3 linked regions of the Homo sapiens genome follow. The protein of the gene in region 1 interacts with the protein of each later gene in a pairwise test. Each region holds a gene or a part of one and is shown in the gene's direction. Other genes may lie near its edges.

Evidence for each region. Proteins that work in one complex are often made in the same cells at the same time.
Region 2: the proteins of CBY2 (region 1) and CYTH4 interact in binary tests that used the Homo sapiens proteins (3 or more experiments, as listed by UniProt).
Region 3: the proteins of CBY2 (region 1) and C19orf44 interact in binary tests that used the Homo sapiens proteins (3 or more experiments, as listed by UniProt).

What each region holds. Positions count from the first base shown.
Region 1 is NC_000013.11:45,712,313-45,715,122, forward strand, and holds the end of CBY2 (protein chibby homolog 2), read left to right. Parts: intron 1-869; coding exon 870-2,060; 3' UTR 2,061-2,247; downstream 2,248-2,810.
Region 2 is NC_000022.11:37,278,541-37,285,507, forward strand, and holds the start of CYTH4 (cytohesin-4), read left to right. Parts: upstream 1-3,967; 5' UTR 3,968-4,029; coding exon 4,030-4,048; intron 4,049-6,967. UniProt on the Homo sapiens protein: Promotes guanine-nucleotide exchange on ARF1 and ARF5. Promotes the activation of ARF factors through replacement of GDP with GTP.
Region 3 is NC_000019.10:16,506,324-16,513,393, forward strand, and holds part of C19orf44 (uncharacterized protein C19orf44), read left to right. Parts: intron 1-377; coding exon 378-451; intron 452-3,175; coding exon 3,176-3,665; intron 3,666-4,758; coding exon of another isoform or gene 4,759-4,844; exon of another isoform or gene 4,845-6,683; intron 6,684-6,690; coding exon 6,691-6,786; intron 6,787-7,070.

The sequences.
Region 1 (2,810 bases):
ATTAAAGCTCAAATAACTTGCTCAAATTCTTGTTAATTGGTAAGTAGTGAGGCAAAGACTCAAAATATTTGGTTGACTCTAAAATGAATGCCTTTGACCACCATAATATATAACTGTTTCTTATTATTCACGGATTCCATATTTGTGAATTTGCCTACTTGCTAAAATGTGTATCCACCAAATCAATACTTGTAGCACTTTTATGGTAATTCTCAGACATGCACGGAGAGGTGAAAATTTGAGTTGTGTGAAGTTGAGTCCCCAGCCAAGGAGCCTTCTTGTTTCAGCTCTCAGGCTAGAAAATAGTGTCCATTGCGCAGTCTATCTAGTGCCACTTTTTTTGTTTTGCCTTCTTGTGCATTTTGTTGGTGATTTTGCTGTTAAAAATGGCTTCTGTACCATTCCAAGTCAAGTGCTGTCTAGTATTCCCAATCACAAGAAGGCTATGCTGTGCCACATGGAGAAAACACATGTGTTAGAGAAGTTTTGTTTGGGCATGCGTGACAGTGCTGCTGACGTGAATTTGATGTTAATGAATCAACAATACGCACTAAATGAGGTTATGTATTGCTTGGTTGACAAAACTGTGACCACAGGCTCACAGGAACATAGCCCTCTATTTCCTGTAGGAGCAATGGTTCTATATTTGCTAATTCAGTATTGGAACTGACTTCATAGAACAGAACTCACTGGAATGACAAGGATAGGCCACATTTCCTTGTGAGGACCCCAAGAAGCAAAAGCGCCCACTGTGGCCAGGCCAGACAATCAGACGGGGCTTATTTGGGGATGTCCTGGCCCCTTTGTCAGCCAGCCCCAAGTGTGTCAGTCCCATCGTTAACGCTGGGCTTTCCCATTCTCTCCCGCAGAGGGGCACAGCCGAACCCTTCCCGAGGCTCCACAACTTGTACAGCACCCCTCGCTGCGCGCAGCAGGCCGCCCTGCCCCGGCTGAGCCGCAGGATGGCGAGCCAGCACTCCTATCCACTGAACCGCTTCTCCTCCGTGCCTTTAGACCCCATGGAGCGCCCCATGTCCCAGGCCGACCTGGAGCTGGACTACAACCCGCCGCGGGTGCAGCTCAGCGACGAGATGTTCGTGTTCCAGGACGGGCGCTGGGTAAATGAGAACTGCCGCCTGCAGTCTCCCTACTTCTCCCCATCCGCCTCCTTCCACCACAAGCTGCACCACAAGAGGCTGGCCAAGGAGTGCATGCTGCAGGAGGAGAACAAGTCTCTGCGGGAGGAGAACAAGGCCCTGCGCGAGGAGAACCGGATGCTCAGCAAGGAGAACAAGATCCTACAGGTCTTCTGGGAGGAGCACAAGGCCTCGCTGGGCCGAGAGGAGAGCCGGGCCCCCTCGCCACTGCTGCACAAAGACAGCGCGTCCCTGGAGGTGGTGAAGAAGGACCACGTCGCCCTGCAGGTGCCCCGTGGCAAGGAGGACAGCACCCTGCAGCTCCTCCGGGAGGAGAATCGCGCGCTGCAGCAGCTGCTGGAGCAGAAACAGGCCTACTGGGCGCAGGCAGAGGACACGGCCGCCCCTGCCGAGGAAAGCAAGCCCGCCCCCTCACCCCACGAGGAGCCCTGCAGCCCCGGGCTGCTGCAGGACCAGGGCTCCGGCCTCTCCTCCCGCTTCGAGGAGCCCAAAGGGCCTCCGGCCCGGCAGGAGGACTCCAAGGAGCTGCGCGCCCTGCGGAAGATGGTCAGCAACATGTCCGGGCCCTCCGGGGAGGAGGAGGCCAAGGTGGGCCCGGGCCTGCCCGACGGCTGCCAGCCCCTGCAGCTGCTGAGAGAGATGAGGCAGGCGCTGCAGGCCCTGCTCAAGGAGAACCGGCTCCTGCAGGAGGAGAACAGGACCCTGCAGGTGCTACGGGCAGAGCACAGGGGCTTCCAGGAGGAGAACAAGGCCCTGTGGGAGAACAACAAGCTGAAGCTGCAGCAGAAGCTGGTCATTGACACCGTGACCGAGGTCACCGCGCGCATGGAAATGCTCATCGAGGAGCTCTACGCCTTCATGCCGGCCAGGAGCCAGGACCCCAAGAAGCCTAGCAGGGTCTGAGGCCTCGGCCTTGCACCGGGACGCCGAGTTTGGGACACCGAACACTGGGCAAAAGAGAATCCCCTGCCTTCCTTTGTCGTCCTCGCCTTCCCCAGCCAGTTCGTACCTATTGAAAAGCAGCGTTAGCAGCCTTCCTAAACTCAGAGTTTTAATAAAGGTGTGAGGAGGCTGGGGCCAGTTGACACCAGCATGCTGCCTTTTTCTTTCTTTCTTTCTTTCTTTCTTTTAATAAAAGATAGACAATATTTTAGAGCAGTTTTGGGTTCACAGCTAAACTGAGCAGAAAGTACAGGGAGTTCCCATAGACTCCCGTCCCACAAATGCATAATCTCCCGCATTATCACCATCCCTCCAGAGAGGTACACTAGTGACAGTCTTTGAACCTACATTGACACATAATTATTCCAAAGTCCGTAAGTTTGTATTAGGGTTTGCTGCTGGTGTTGTACATTCTGTGGGTTTGATCAAATGCATAGTGACATGTAGCCACCATTGTAGTACCATATAGAGTATTATAGAGTATATGTAGTACCATATAGAGTATTTTCATTGCGCTAAAAATCCTCTGTGCTCTGCCTGTTCATCCCTCCCTCCCCCTCCAGCCTCTGGCCACCACTGATCTTTTTTACAGTCTTCATAGTTTTGCTTTTTTCAGAATGTCATATAGTTGGAATCGCCAAGTGTGGAGCCTTTTCAGGTTGGCTTCTTTCACTTGGATATGCATTTAAGTTTCCTCCATGTCTTTTCATA
Region 2 (6,967 bases), on another chromosome or scaffold:
AGATGCTAGACCCTTCCTATCTCTCCCTCAAAGGAAGTGCAGGGAGTGGGGAGGGCAGGTCGGTGAACTTCTGAAATGTTTAAAGTGACGCTTGTACAAGCTGAGTGTGGGGATCTGAAGTCAGACAGTTCAGGGCTTGAATCTGAACTTTGCTTTCTCCTGGCTGCGTGACCTTGGGCAAGTGATTTAACCTCTCTGAACTCAGTTCCCTCATCTATGAAAGAGGGGTTGTAATAATGTAATTTGTTGAATGGTGGAAAGGGTTAAATGAGATGACAAGCACTTAGCACAGTGTCTGGCACTCCATAGCAGGCACTCCAGAAATAGCAGTGATGGTTTTTTTAGGACCTCCCAGATCTCGTGTTTGGAGACTCTCATTTGTTGTCCCAGAACCAACTGCGGATCCCCTGCCTGGTACACAGGTGGGAACCAGAGCCTGATGTAGCGCAGAAGGACTGATCTCAGGCCAGAAAGTTTTAAGGGGATTCCTTCCCGTTTTCATCCTTCCTCCTACCTGGAATTTAGACATGATAGCTGGAGATCAAGCAGCCACTTTGGACCATGAAGAGAATTTGAGGACAGCAGCCGAAAGTTAGAAGGATCCTGGATCCATGCCCAGGCTGCTACAGGGCAGCCATGTGTTGCCCACTTCAGGTTTCTTTCTTGTAAGAGATCAATAAACCTCTAGTTTCTTTAAACCATTATTATTATTTGGGTTTTCTGTTTCATGTAGGCAAACCTAACCTGAACTGTCTCCATTTTGTAGATGATTTTAAATGATTAAAAATGAGGCTCGGAGGGGAAGGAAGAAGATCACACAGCTCACAAGAGCTGAGTCAGGATTCAAATCCAGTTCTCTGTGACTCCCCTGGGTCCAGCTTCCTGCTCTCCTCATTGCCTGTGCTATTGGTTCCCAGCAAATCTTGCAGCCAAACCTGGACAAGGAGTGACGGAGAAAATGATGAAGTCAGTTCTGCTAAACTCTTTGCTGCTCACAGTGAAAGAGTCCCTCCCTCCCAGGCTGTCTGCATATAAGCCGTTAAACATGACCAGCGTTGTGGGAAAGAGGGAGGGGAGGTGTCATCACAACGGACCTCACAGAGGAGGTGGTATTTGAGGTATGTCTTAGAGAATAAGACAGTAACAATAGCTGAACCACACAACCGTGACCATCCATCAGACAAAAGGGAAGTGTCAGATGCCAAACCGTGGCCTGGTCAAGACACATTTACTGGATCAGCCGCAAGATCAGGCAGCCTTCCCCAAGGCCATCCCAGGTTCAGTGGTTTACTAGGTGGACTCCCAGGACTCAGCTCATGGTCATACTTACGGCTATGATCTATGGCAGTGAAAGGACTCAAAGCAGAATCCGCAAAGGCGCCGTGGCGAAGTCCAGAGGAAACCAGGGGCAGCTTCCAAGAGTCTGCTCCCAAAAGAGTCACACGGGACACGCTCAATTCCTCCAGCAACAAGTCGTGAAAGCACCTGTGAGATGGGATGCTGCCAGGGACGCTAGGCAAATAGGTTAGGCCCAGTAAGCCACTCTCATCAGTTAGGGTGGTGGGAGCCCTCCCCAAATCCAAGCTCCCAGGTGCCAGCCAAGGGTCAACTTTGCAAGCATGACTTTCTAAAGATAGCAGTCTCCGGCCTGCAGTGTGAAGTCTTTCTGCACAGGGAATTATATATACCTTTCTCCATATTTCTAGGGGTTATTTTGTTTGTTTTGTTTTTTCTTTTGTTTTGTTTTTGGAGACGGAGTCTCACTCTGTTGCCAGGCTGGAGTGCAGTGGCGCGATCTCAGCTCACTGCAACCTCCGACTCTCTGGTTCAAGTGATTCTCCCGCTTCAGCCTCCCAAGTAGCTGGCATTATAGGCACCCGCCACCATGCCCAGCTAATTTTTGTATTTTTAGTATAGACGGGGTTTCACCACGTTGGCCAGGATGGTCTTGATCTCCTGACCTTGTGATCCACCCGCCTCGGCCTCCCAAAGTGCTGGGATTACAGGCATGAGCCACTATGCCCAGCCCACATTTCTAGTTTTAAAATGGCCAAGGGCATGGTTTGTGGTGCCTCAGGCCCAAAGCAGTTGAGAAAAATCTAGTTTACCATGGAAATAATTGTAACAAGTTTTCCAGAAAAGAACCATGAGTTATACAAGAACCCAGGTGGAGGCAGGGCAGGGGAGAAGCAGCGGGGTTCAAAAATCCTGAGCACACTAGACGGGGACTTAGTAGGCCTGGCTTCTGGGCCTGAATTGGCACTCACTCAAGTTCCAACTTGGTCAAGTGTTTCCCAGAAATAAGCCTCAGTTTTCTCTCCGAGGAAATGACAGCATTGGATTTCTTCTGTATCAGCAAGCTTTGGCTGCATAACAAAGCATCCCAGAAGTTGGTGGCTTAAACCACAAAAATGTATTATTTCCCACAGTGCTATGGGTCAGCAGTTTGGGTGGGACTCCGCTTGATGGTTCTTCTTCTGGTGTCCCCTGGCCTCACTGATGAGGCAGCAACCAGGGGACAGCCAAGACAGCCCAGCCTATCTCCTTGTGGTCCTCCGTCTTCCAACAGGCTAGCCCAGGCTTGTTCTCATGGTAGCCAGGCAGGGGGCTGAGAGCAAGAGCAGGAGCTGCAAGGCCTTTTAAAGCTCAGCCTCGAACATCACGGCACATCATTTCTGCCACGTGCTATTGGTCAAAGAGATGCCCAAGGCCAGCTCAGCTTCCAAGGAAGGAGAAATGGACTTCGCCCCTTGACAGCAGAAGCGGCGGCATAGTGAAAAGGAGGTGAACTTGTAGCTAGCTTTCACATCGGCCGTGATCTCTTCCATGTTCCCTTCATTCATTCATTCATTCATTCATTTGTTCATTCATTCCACACTTGCACACCCTCTATGTCCCCAGCATTTTACCACACACCAGAACACAAAAGGTAACCTTGCCCTCATGGGGCCTGGAGAGTAATGGGGAAACAGATGAATAACTCTGCATGTGTCCTGAAGTTATAGGGAATTCACATTTAATTTATACCTGTTTCTTTACAGCAAAGCTTTTTGCAGAAAGGATTTGAACCAACCTGCCAGAAAAGGCACAAGGAATAACATGATACATTTTAACCAAAGAAGATAATTAAAATCAAAGGAGAAAGTGTTTATTGAGCACCTACTATGTCCCAAGCATCTCCGACACATCCTCTCACTCCATGGTTTCCATATCCCCGAGTTAGTGTTATTCCCCTTTCAGAGATAAGCAAAGCGAGGCTGACTAGCCCTAGCTGAGAGTCAAACAGCTGAGTCAGGCCCCAAAGTTCACATGACATCATAGAATAGCTGTCGATGAGCTTTGGATTTGACGATGAGTTTCCCAGCAGCCTGGGGGAGAAGGAAAGTGGAACATATTACCCGATTGTTCACTAGACAAGAAAAAGCCAGATATTTCTTTGAAGGGAAGCAAAGCCCTTCCTAGCAGTGAATTCATTTGTCTCTTCTCAAGTGGGAGTTGGAAGAGAGCTTGTGGGGTGGAACACAGGGGGCCCTGCTAGGACTGTCCAAGTTGGGCGCTCCTATGGCATATATGTGAGGAGGCTGCCACGTGAATGCCCATGGTCCCCTGGAAAATGTTCGTCCTCAGTGAACATCGCCCTCGGTGTCTGTGCATGTGTACGTGTGTATGTGCATATGTGTCTGTGTGTTTCTTTCTGTCTCACTGTCTTTCTCTTTTTTATCTGGCCCTCCCCTCACTTCATCTGTTTGTTTGTTTGTTTGTTTGTTTGTTTCCACCTCTGTCCCTCCCTGGCAAAAGTCCCTGCTGCTCAAAACTCTGCCAGTTTTTAGGAAGTGCTGTTTTGTCAAAAGCCTGCACACGAGACCCCCGTGGGCCAGGACTGACTTCCTCCCCACACAGGGCTGGGCGGGGCAAGCAGGAAGGAGCCTGTTACAGTCAAGGTGACGCATCCTTGCCGGGCCAGCCCGAACAGCAGCTGGGTCGGCAAGCGACAGGAGCACGGGTCATCTTTTCCCCAGAGGCGTCGGAATGGACCTGTGCCACCCAGGTAAGCAACTGCCGTCAACCTCTCTGGGCCTCAGGGTGCTCTCTTTTAGAATGGGACAGCAGCCCCTGCCTCACAGGGTCCTAGATAAAGGAATACAGCGCAGGTGGGAAATGCAGCTGCAAGAAGCAAACATTTGTGGGCTCAGCCTGTGTGTCCAGTTGCGTTCTAGGGGCTGGACACACAGCAGTAGCAAAGCAGACGCTGTTTCCCCCTTCATAGGCTTGTGCTCTAGATGAGGAGACCGGCAGTGACTCTAATGTGATTCCATATGTCAGTTGATGGCAGGTAGGATGAAGAACAGTAAAGCAGGGTAAGGAAGACAGGAATGCATGGTGGAAAAGGCCCCAAGAGGAGATGCTGTCTGATGAGGGACCTGAGGAAGATGTCAGCTAAGGGGCTTTCTAAGGAACAAACATTCCAGCCAGAAGGAACAGCCAGTCCAAAGGCTCAGAGGTGGACTCAGAAAAGTGACTTGCGATTAAGATGATGATGGGATGTTGGTGATGGCGATGCTTGTCTGGGTGATACAAGGGCCTTGAGGCCCCTTTTTGGCCCCCGGGGGTTGGGGTGGTCTTTGGGGAGGCTGAGGACGCTGCCTAGAGCCAGGGGAGGGCCAGGAGTGAGCAACAGAGGCTCTGGTTGAAACCCTCCCCAGCTACTAAGACAATGTGTCTGGGGAGAAAGAGGAGAAAGGAGGCTGCAAAGATGGTGAGGAAAAGAACATCAGGGTCGTGTTTTGGGAGGCAAATTGAAGGCCCGGTAGAGGGGCCAAGTTTCTGCACCCTGGATGTCAGCATGCTCCAGAGCTGCAACAGTTCTGGTGAACACGGCTGCTGGAATTCCAGAACCTAAGGGCTCGTGGGAGCTGTCTGCTCCCCAGGTCCAGATGACCTCAGCCTTGTCCAGGAGCACCCTTGCTTCAAACGCACCTAATGTGGAGCAGCCTGGCCCCGCCCACTGGGCATCCCCCTTCCTCCCCACCCCCAGATGGAAGCCTCGGGCCCCAGGGAACCCAGAGAACCACTGATCCATTTCAACAGCCCCCCCAGTGGCAGAAGGGAGAAAAGAGGCCAAGGGAGGAAAACAGCCTCTCTAAGGCAGGAGCAGGACCAAATCCTGTTCCCTGAATCCCTATCCAGGGCTCACTCTGACCCCTGCCTCTCCCATGGGCTTTGGGGGCTCCCAAAATCACAGCTCAGTGAGCACAGCTTGGGGGCACCTGGTTGGCACAGGGAGACCCAGCGAAGGGCAGCACCTGGCTCAGGCCTCTCAGCAGACATGAGGGTGGGATGAGGGGGGGAGGGCACCCACCGAGATGCAACCCCCCTGCCTGTGTGTCCAGCAGGGCGCTTTGTCCTTTCGGGTCCTAACATACTGAGGTTACAGGGATGGCTGTCTCCATGTTGCAGATAAGGAAACTGAGGCTCCCAGAGGTGAACTAGAGACGGGGACTGACTTGCTTGAGGTCACACGGCCAGTCAGCAGCAGAGCAGGGACGAGAACCTGCGGGAGAGAGCCCCAGGTTGGCCGGGGCTATGGAGAGGGCAGGGGAGGGGAGTCTCTGCTTTGCTTCAGCCGGTACTAGGGAGGAAATGGATTAAATGGGGTCAATGGGTTCTCCATCGAGTAGTTGGTCTTTTCATTCATTCACTCTACAAACGACCTTCCAGTGTGCTATGCAGTGCTGGGGACAGCAGTGACCCAGCCATGGGCCTAACCCTGGGGGACAGGTGTTGGTCTGGAATGTTGGGGGTGGGGTGGAGAGGCAGGAGCCACATCCTGCAGGACCCTGACCCAGCTGTGCAAATGGACACAGACCTACAGATGGGAGGAAGCAACTTTTCCCACTGGGGCAGAGGAGATCTGGGAAGACCTCCTTGAGGAGGAGGCCAGAGGGAGGGAGAAAAGGTCATTTCCCTGTTGCCCAGACTGGGTCTTAAATGGGGCTTCTTCATGGCACGGTGACTTCCCCTCTCTGAGTTCTGATTTGTCATCTCTACGTGGGTGCCATCATCCTGGCCTGGCCTGGGGAAGCGGGGATTGGGAGTTAGCCGGACCTCGCTCAGGTTCCAGCTCTGCACCACCCTGCCAGTGGTCATGGTCTCTTCCTTCTATGGGCCTCAGTTTTCTCACCTTTATTATGGACAGGCTGGTGACTCAGGGGCCCCCAGGGCTGCCTCCCCTCCTCTCCTGAGGTGGGCCTGTGTCGGGAAGCAGGTAAGGCGCCCTCCCCCAGGGCCTGCCGGGAAGGTGAGAGGGCCAGACAGCAAAGCCCCAGTGTGGCCAAAGACAAGCACTGTGCTGGTGCAGAGAAGACAGGCAGCGCAGTTAAAAATAGAGCCAGCTCGGCTGGGGCGGTGGGGGGGCGGCGGGGGAGGAAGCCGCACTCCGCAGAGCCTGTGGGGCTTGTGGGGCTGGGGCGGGGAGCAGCTCCACCCACACCCCCTCTGCCCCAGGGTCCCTCCTACTGAGACTTTGAGGGGCCTCTTTATTTAGGGCCCTGAGATGGCATCCTCCTCCTGCCCTGGAAAGGGGAAGTGAGGCCAGCTGTCCTGGAAGCAGGGCTGCAAGCTCAAAGATTTCTAAAAATACGATGGGAAAGAGGAAGGACAAAGAGGAAGTGGGGAGGAGCCGGGGAGATGGGCACATTCACCAGCCTGGGCGCAAGGGCAGCACCAGCCTGTGGGCTTGGGGTGGGGGTTCATGTCACACCTTGTGAGGTTGTGAGAAGCACAGAGATAAGTGAGAAGGAAACGGGGTGTGTGGTGGTGGTGGTGGTGGTGGTAATTTTATTATTTGTGTGTATTATTATTAGTATTTAAAAATTCATCTCCTGGCCAGGCATGGTGGCTCACATCTATAATCCCAGCACTTTGGGAGGCCAAGGCAGGTGGATCACCAGAGGTCAGGAGATCGAGA
Region 3 (7,070 bases), on another chromosome or scaffold:
TGGCTCACACCTGTAAACCCAGCACTTTGGGAGGCCGAGGCAGGTGAATCACTTGAGGCCAGGAATTCAAGACCAGCCTGGCCAAATGGTGAAATCTTGTCTGTACTAAAAATAGAAAAATTAGCCGGGCGAGGTGTCAGGCACCTGTAATCCCAGCTACTCAGGAGGCTGAGGTGAGAGAATCACTTGAACTTGGGAGGCAGAAGTTGTGGTGAGCCAAGATCGTGCCACTGCACTCCAGCCTGGGTGACAGAGTGAGACTCTATCTCAAAAAAAAAAAGAAAAGAAAAGAAAAAAGAAATTTGGAAGGTTTGTAAAAATTTATGGAGTAAATAAGAGAGTAAATGTAAACGCTTATACTCATTTTTTAATTACAGAGTTTAGAATAAATATTTTATCGCTTGACGGTCTGGCTCCAGCTGTCAGTGAGAACTCCGATTTGGAACAGGAAGTAAGTACAACAAAGTCATTTTTCATGGTCGATTGTTTTTGGCTTCAACATTTTTTTTTTTAAATTTTTAAAAAATTTAAAAATTGAGGCAGGGTCTCACTATGTTGCCCAGGCCGTCCTCAAACTGGGCTCAAGCAATCCTCCCGATTCAGCCTCCCAAAGTGCTGGGATTACAGGTGTGAGCGACCATGCCTGGCCCAATGTCGATTCTTATGTGGAAAAGCAAGTAATGTTTCATTTAGGCCTATAGTTTTCAAATCTGCCCCCCAGGGGACATTGGCAATGTCTGGTGACATTTTGGCTGTCATGACTAGGGGGTGGGTGACAGATGCCACTGGCATTGTGAGTGGGTGGAGGCCAGGAACACTGCTCCATATTGTGTAATGCACCGGGTGGCCCCCAGCTGCCAAGAATGTTGTGGCCTCTGATGTCAAGAGTGCAGTAGGTGAGAGACCCTGATTTAGGTGCTAACAGGATGAAGCTACCTTGGTTAGCTGGTGATTAAAGCACATCCCACGTAAAGCCGCCCATGACAACATCTGCACGGAGGCAACACTTCACCAGCCGTATCCAGTCACACTCCCTGTTGTGATTTTTGTCCTGGTGGCCACCGGCACTGTCAGATACACGTGTTGGTTATACACAGTGATGACATTTTATTTTTATTTTAAAATATTTATTGTTTTTATTTTATTATTATTATTATTTTTTATTTTAAACTTTTTTTTTTTTTTTGAGAGAAGTCTTGTTCTTATCCCCCAGGTTTGAGTGCAATGGCTCGATCTCGGCTCACTGCAACCTCCACCTCCCGGGTTCAAACGATTCTCCTGCCTCTGCCTCCCAAGTAGCTGGGATTAAGTCCCCTGCCACCATGCCCAGCTAATTTTTGTATATTTTAGTAGAGACGGGGTTTCACCATGTTGGCCAGGCTGGTTTCGAACTCCTGACTGCAAGTGATCCACCTGCCTTGGCCCCCCAAAGTGCTGGGATTACAGGCATGAGCCACTGCGCCTGGCCTATTATTATTATTATTATTATTATTATTTTGAGACAGAGTCTCGCTCTGCTGCCCAGGCTGGAGTGCAGTGGTGTGATCTCAGCTCACTGCAAGCTCCGCCTCCTGGGTTCACACCATTCTCCTGCCTCAGCCTCCCGAGCAGCTGGGACTATAGGCGCCCACCACCAGGCCCGGATAATTTTTTTTGTATTTTTAGTAGAGATGGGGTTTCACCGTGTTAGCCAGGATAGTCTCGATCTCCTGACCTCGTGATCCGCCCGCCTCGGCCTCCCAGAGTGCTGGGATTACAGGCGTGAGCCACCACGCCCGGCCTTAATTATTATTTTTTTGAGACACAGTCTCGCTCTGTCGCCCAGGCTGGGACTACAGTGGCACAATCTCAGCTCACTGCAACCTCCACCTCCTGGTTTCAAGCAATTCTTGTGCCTCAGCCTCCTGAGTAGCTGGGATTACAGGCACCCGCCACCCTACCCCACTAATTTTTGTATTTTTAGTAGAGATAGTTTCACCATGTTGGCCAGGCTGGTCTCCAACTCCTGACCTCAGGTGATTCACCCACCTTGGCCTCTCAAAGTGCTGGGATTACAGGCATGCGCCACCATGCCTGGCCCAATTTATTTATTTTTGAGACAGGTCTCACTCAGGCTGGAATGCAGTTGGGGGATCATGGCTCACTTCATCCTCGATGTCCTAGGCTCAAGCAATCCTGCCCAGCCTCCTGAGTAGCTGAGACTACAAGCGTGCACCCATGCCTGGCTAATTTTTTATTTTTTTGTAGAGATATGGACCGGCTGGGTTGTCCAGGCTGGTCTTGAACTCCCAGCTTCAAGCAATCCTCCTGCCTCGGCCTTTCAAAGTGCCGAGATTACAGGTGTGAGCCATTGCCCCCAGGCATGATGAAACTTAATTTTTAAAATATTTTTTTTCTTACAGAGGTAGGGTCTTGCTATGTCTCCCAGGCAGGTCTTGAACTCCTGAGCTCAAAGGATCCTGCCGCCTCAGCCACCTAACATTTCATCAGTCCATGATGAAATGTTTTTTTTTTGAGACAGAGTTTTGCTCTTGTTGCCCAGGCCGGAGTGCAATGGTGTGATCTCAGCTCACCATAACCTCTGCCTCCTGGGTTCAAGTGATTCTCCTGCCTTAGCCTGCTGAGTAGCTGGGATTACAGATACGTGCCACCATGTCTGGCTAATTTTGTATTTTTGGTAGAGACGGGGTTTCTCCATGTTGGTCAGGCTGGTTTCAAACTCCCAACCTCAGGTGATCTGCCCGCCTTGGCCTCCCAAAGTGCTGGGATTATAGGCATGAGCCACTGTGCCCGGCTGAAAATTTTTTAATTTTTTTTTTCTTATAGAGGTAGGGTCTTGCTGTGTTGCCCAGGCAGGTCTTGAACTCCTGAGCTCAAAGGATCCTACCGCCTCAACCACCTAAAGTCCTTAAGTCCATGATGAAATGTTAAATGCCATCCACGTGCCACCTAAGCATGCGTCACACCATCAGGATTCCTGCAGCCCCGTGGACATGCCGTACTGAAGACGCCACAGTTCTGTTTAGAATACTCCGTGCCCACATCTAATGAGGACCTGGTGTGTCCCCTTGTCTGCGGGAGTGCTGCAGGTCCCCAGCTCCTAGGAGTGCAGTGTTCCTAGCATGTTGATATTTCCAAAACACTTCCCAGCCACCTCTGCCATTCTTCATTTTAGGAGGAAAGTGCTCAGAGACAAAAAACAGCTGGCAAAATCTTCAGAGCCGAGGCGTCCACTGGGCAGGATGCCCCGAGGCAGGCCCAGGCGAGGAGCTGGGCATCACAGGGAAAGGCCGCCTCTGCAGAGGGGGATGAGAGCGAGGTCTCGGAGCATCTCAGTGCCAGCTCGGCTTCTGCCATCCAGCAGGACAGCACTTCCAGCATGCAGCCACCATCTGAAGCCCCCATGGTGAACACAGTCAGCTCAGCTTATTCGGAGGATTTTGAAAACTCTCCAAGTCTGACAGCATCTGAGCCAACCGCCCATTCCAAGGAGTCTCTTGACAGAACACTGGACGCTTTGTCTGAATCCTCTTCAAGTGTGAAGACAGACCTTCCACAAACAGCCGAGTCTAGGAAAAAGTCGGGCAGGCACGTGACAAGAGTGCTTGTGAAGGACACAGCTGTGCAGACGCCAGATCCTGCCTTCACCTACGAGTGGACCAAGGGTAAGCCTTGGGGCCCGTGGGGGCCGGGGCAGCCGGGACAGGAGCTCAGCGTGTGGTTTACAGCATCCTGGGAGACACGTGGGAGAGCTCAGGTTCCTGAGATTTGGGCTCTTGTTATTAATCACCTGGAGGGGTTGGCCAAGCAAGGTGGCTCACGCCTGTAATCCCAGCACTTTGGGAGGCCGAGGCGGGAGGATCACTTGAGGTCAGGAGTTCAAGACCAGTCTGGCCAACACAGGGAACCCTCATCTCTACTAAAAATACAAAAATTAGCTGGCTGTGGTGGTGTGTTCCTGTAATCCCAGCTACTCAGGAAGCTGAGGCTTGAGAAGAACCCGGGAGGTGGAGGTTGCAGTGAGCTGAGATGATGCCCCTGCACTCCAGCCTGGGTGACAGAATGAGACTCTGTCTCAAAAAAAATAAAAGTCACCTAGGGACCTTGGCTCACCATTTCCTCTTCCATGGACGAGGGACAGCCGCCCTCGTGTGTCCCGATGTCTTCCTAGCCCTGAAGCATTCAGAAGGATCAGAACCAAGGACTAGGGTAGCACCTCCCACAGGATGATTCACGGGGGGACTCCAGCAAGGTCTGGAGACATTATTAGTTGTCACAACTCAGGGTGGGGAATGCTATCGGCATCTGCTGGGTGGAGGCCAGGGGTGCTATTCCACACCCCGCAGTGCACAGGATGCCTTTGTCCTGGAGAATGAACACCCTGGGTGACTTTCCAGATATTTCTCTCTCTCTCTCTCACTCTGTTTTTAGAGATGGGGTCTTGCTATGTTGCCCAAGCTGGAGTACAGTGACCCAATCATAGCTCACTGCAGCCTCAACCTCCCTAGGCTCAGGTGATCCTCCTACCTCAGCCTCCTGAGTAGTAGGATTACAAGCATGCGCCCCCATGCCTGGCTAATTTTTATATTTTTTGTAGAGACAGGGTCTTGCCATATTGCCCAGCCTGGTCTCAAACTCGTGGGCTCAAGCAATCTGTCAGCCTTAGCCTCCCAAAGTGTTGGGATTACAGGCGTGAGCCACTGCACCCGGCCCTGTATCTTTTTTTTTTTTGAGATGGAGTCTCACTCTCTTGCCCAGGCTGGAGTGTAGTGGTGCGATCTTGGCTTACTGCAACCTCCACCTCCTGGGTTCAAGCGATTCTCCTGCCTCAGCCTCCTGAATAGCTGGGATTACAGGTATGTGCCACCACGCCCAGATAATTTTTGTATTTTTAGTAGAGATGGGGTTTCACCATGCTGGCCAGGCTGGTCTCAAATTCCTGACCTCGTGATCTGCCTGCCTCGGCCTCTCAAAGTGCTGGGATTATAGGTGTGAGCCACCGCACCTGGCCCCCTGTATAATTTTAAAATGTTCTTTGTAGAGACAGGGTCTCCCTATGTTCCCCAGCCTGGTCTTGAACTCCTGGGCTCAAGTGATCCTTCCACCTGCTCATGTTGGCCCCCCAAGGTGCTGGGACTACAGGCATGAGCCACCATGCCTGGCCTTCGGGCATTTCTCTCATTCCCAGCTTCAGTCTCGGCTCTTGCTGGTGGAAAGGCCCCATTCTTTTAAACATTCCCATGTTATTATTTTATTTTATATAATTTTATTTTATGAGATGGGGTCTCGCTCTGTTGCCCAGGCTGGAGTGCGGTGGCACAATCTCGGCCCACTGCCTCCTCCACCTCCTGGGTTTCAGCGATTCTCCCACCTCAGCCTCCCCAATAGCTGGGACTAGAGGCGCCTGGCTAATAAACATTCCCTTTTAATATCTCTTTTCTCATCCATATGGCTCTTGACAAGGTAGACTGGATGTGAAAAATGATGTAGTTCCCAGCCTGGCCAATATGGTGAAACCCCGTCTCTACTAAAAATACAAAAATTAGCCTGGTGTGGTGGCACGCATCTGTAGTCCTAGCTACTCGGGAGGCCGAGGCACAAGAATCGCTTGAAACCAGAAGGTGGAGGTTGCAGTGAGCTGAGATCGTGCCATAGCACCCCAGCCTGGGCGACAGAGTGAGACTCTGTCTCAAAAAAAAAAAAAAAAAAAAAAAAAGGCAATGTAATTCTCACTGGATCTATTTGTTTTGATTTGGGGGCTTAACCTAACATCAGCCTGACGGGCCCCCCAGGAGAGGGTGAGTGGTGTCTGTTTCTCAGGAGGGAAAGTCAATCACATGGACTGAGTCAAATCACCTTGGAGGTGTTAAATGGTATTTTCAACCTGGGATCTGGGCTCAGAATTGTTTGTGTCTCTCTGCACTTCTGTCCATATTTTTGGCAATTTAGGGATGCTTTCATGAAACACTGGCGAGGCTGTTTTCCTAGACTAGGACTGACAGGGAAAGGAGAAAGAAAAAACAGCAGCCATAAACACGCTGGCCTCAGAGCCCAGAGAACACGCAACATCCTGAGGTCAACAGTGACCCTTAGAAGAAGGGCTGGGAAAGCACATCCTCCACTGCTCTCGACTGCAGCCACCGTGAGCCGGAGCCACCGCTGCACCCAGCTAGGATACCCGTGCCTTGAGCCAAGAAAACCTAGCAGAAAAATGGAGGCAGCCTTGGGAAATACTTGAAAGGGGAAGAGGGTAAAAAAAAGTAAAGAAGGGCCGGGTGCGGTGGCTTACACCTCAGCACTTTCAGAGGCTGAGGCAGGAGGATTGCTTGAGCCTAGGAGTTCAAGACCAGCCTGGGCAACATAGGGAGACCCTGTCTCTACAAAAAATTTTAAAAATTAGCCAGGCGTGGTGGCGCACCTGTAGTCCCAGCTACTTGGGAGACAGATGGGAGGATTACGTGAGCCCAGGAGGCTGTAGTGAGCTGTGATCATGCCGTGCACTCCAGACTGGGCAATAGAGCAAGACCCTGTCTCAAACCAAAAAAAAAAAAAAAAAATGCAAGAGTGGCGATCACCTTCAGAAAGAGGGAAGAACAAGGTCACGTAGTTTATTCCAGGGTCGTATCTGTGGACCCGAAAGTCATTTCTCTGCGTCCTGCCTGCTTACCCCTCTCTTTGTCCCCGAGATAGTGGCCAGCATGGCAGCCATGGGGCCTGCCCTGGGAGGCGCCTACGTGGACCCGACACCCATCGCCAATCATGTTATCAGTGCAGATGCAATAGAAGGTAACAGCCCGGCTCGGGGGATCCTTCCTGTCACATTTTACAGGACTCATTTCACCTGCAGATTCACACCCACTCTGGAGGTGTGGCACCCCTTGCATGCTGGCTTCCAGGGGTCCATTGGGCAGGGATTATTGCAGCCACAGGCACCTGCCATGAGGAGAGAAAAGGTGTGGATGCCCTTGAACCTTCTGTCTCTTGCAAAGAGACACCAATGTCACACAAAACAAGAGGGTGAAGAGTGATGCTTCTGTGCCCTGCACCCCAACAAGGCCACTTTTTTTGTT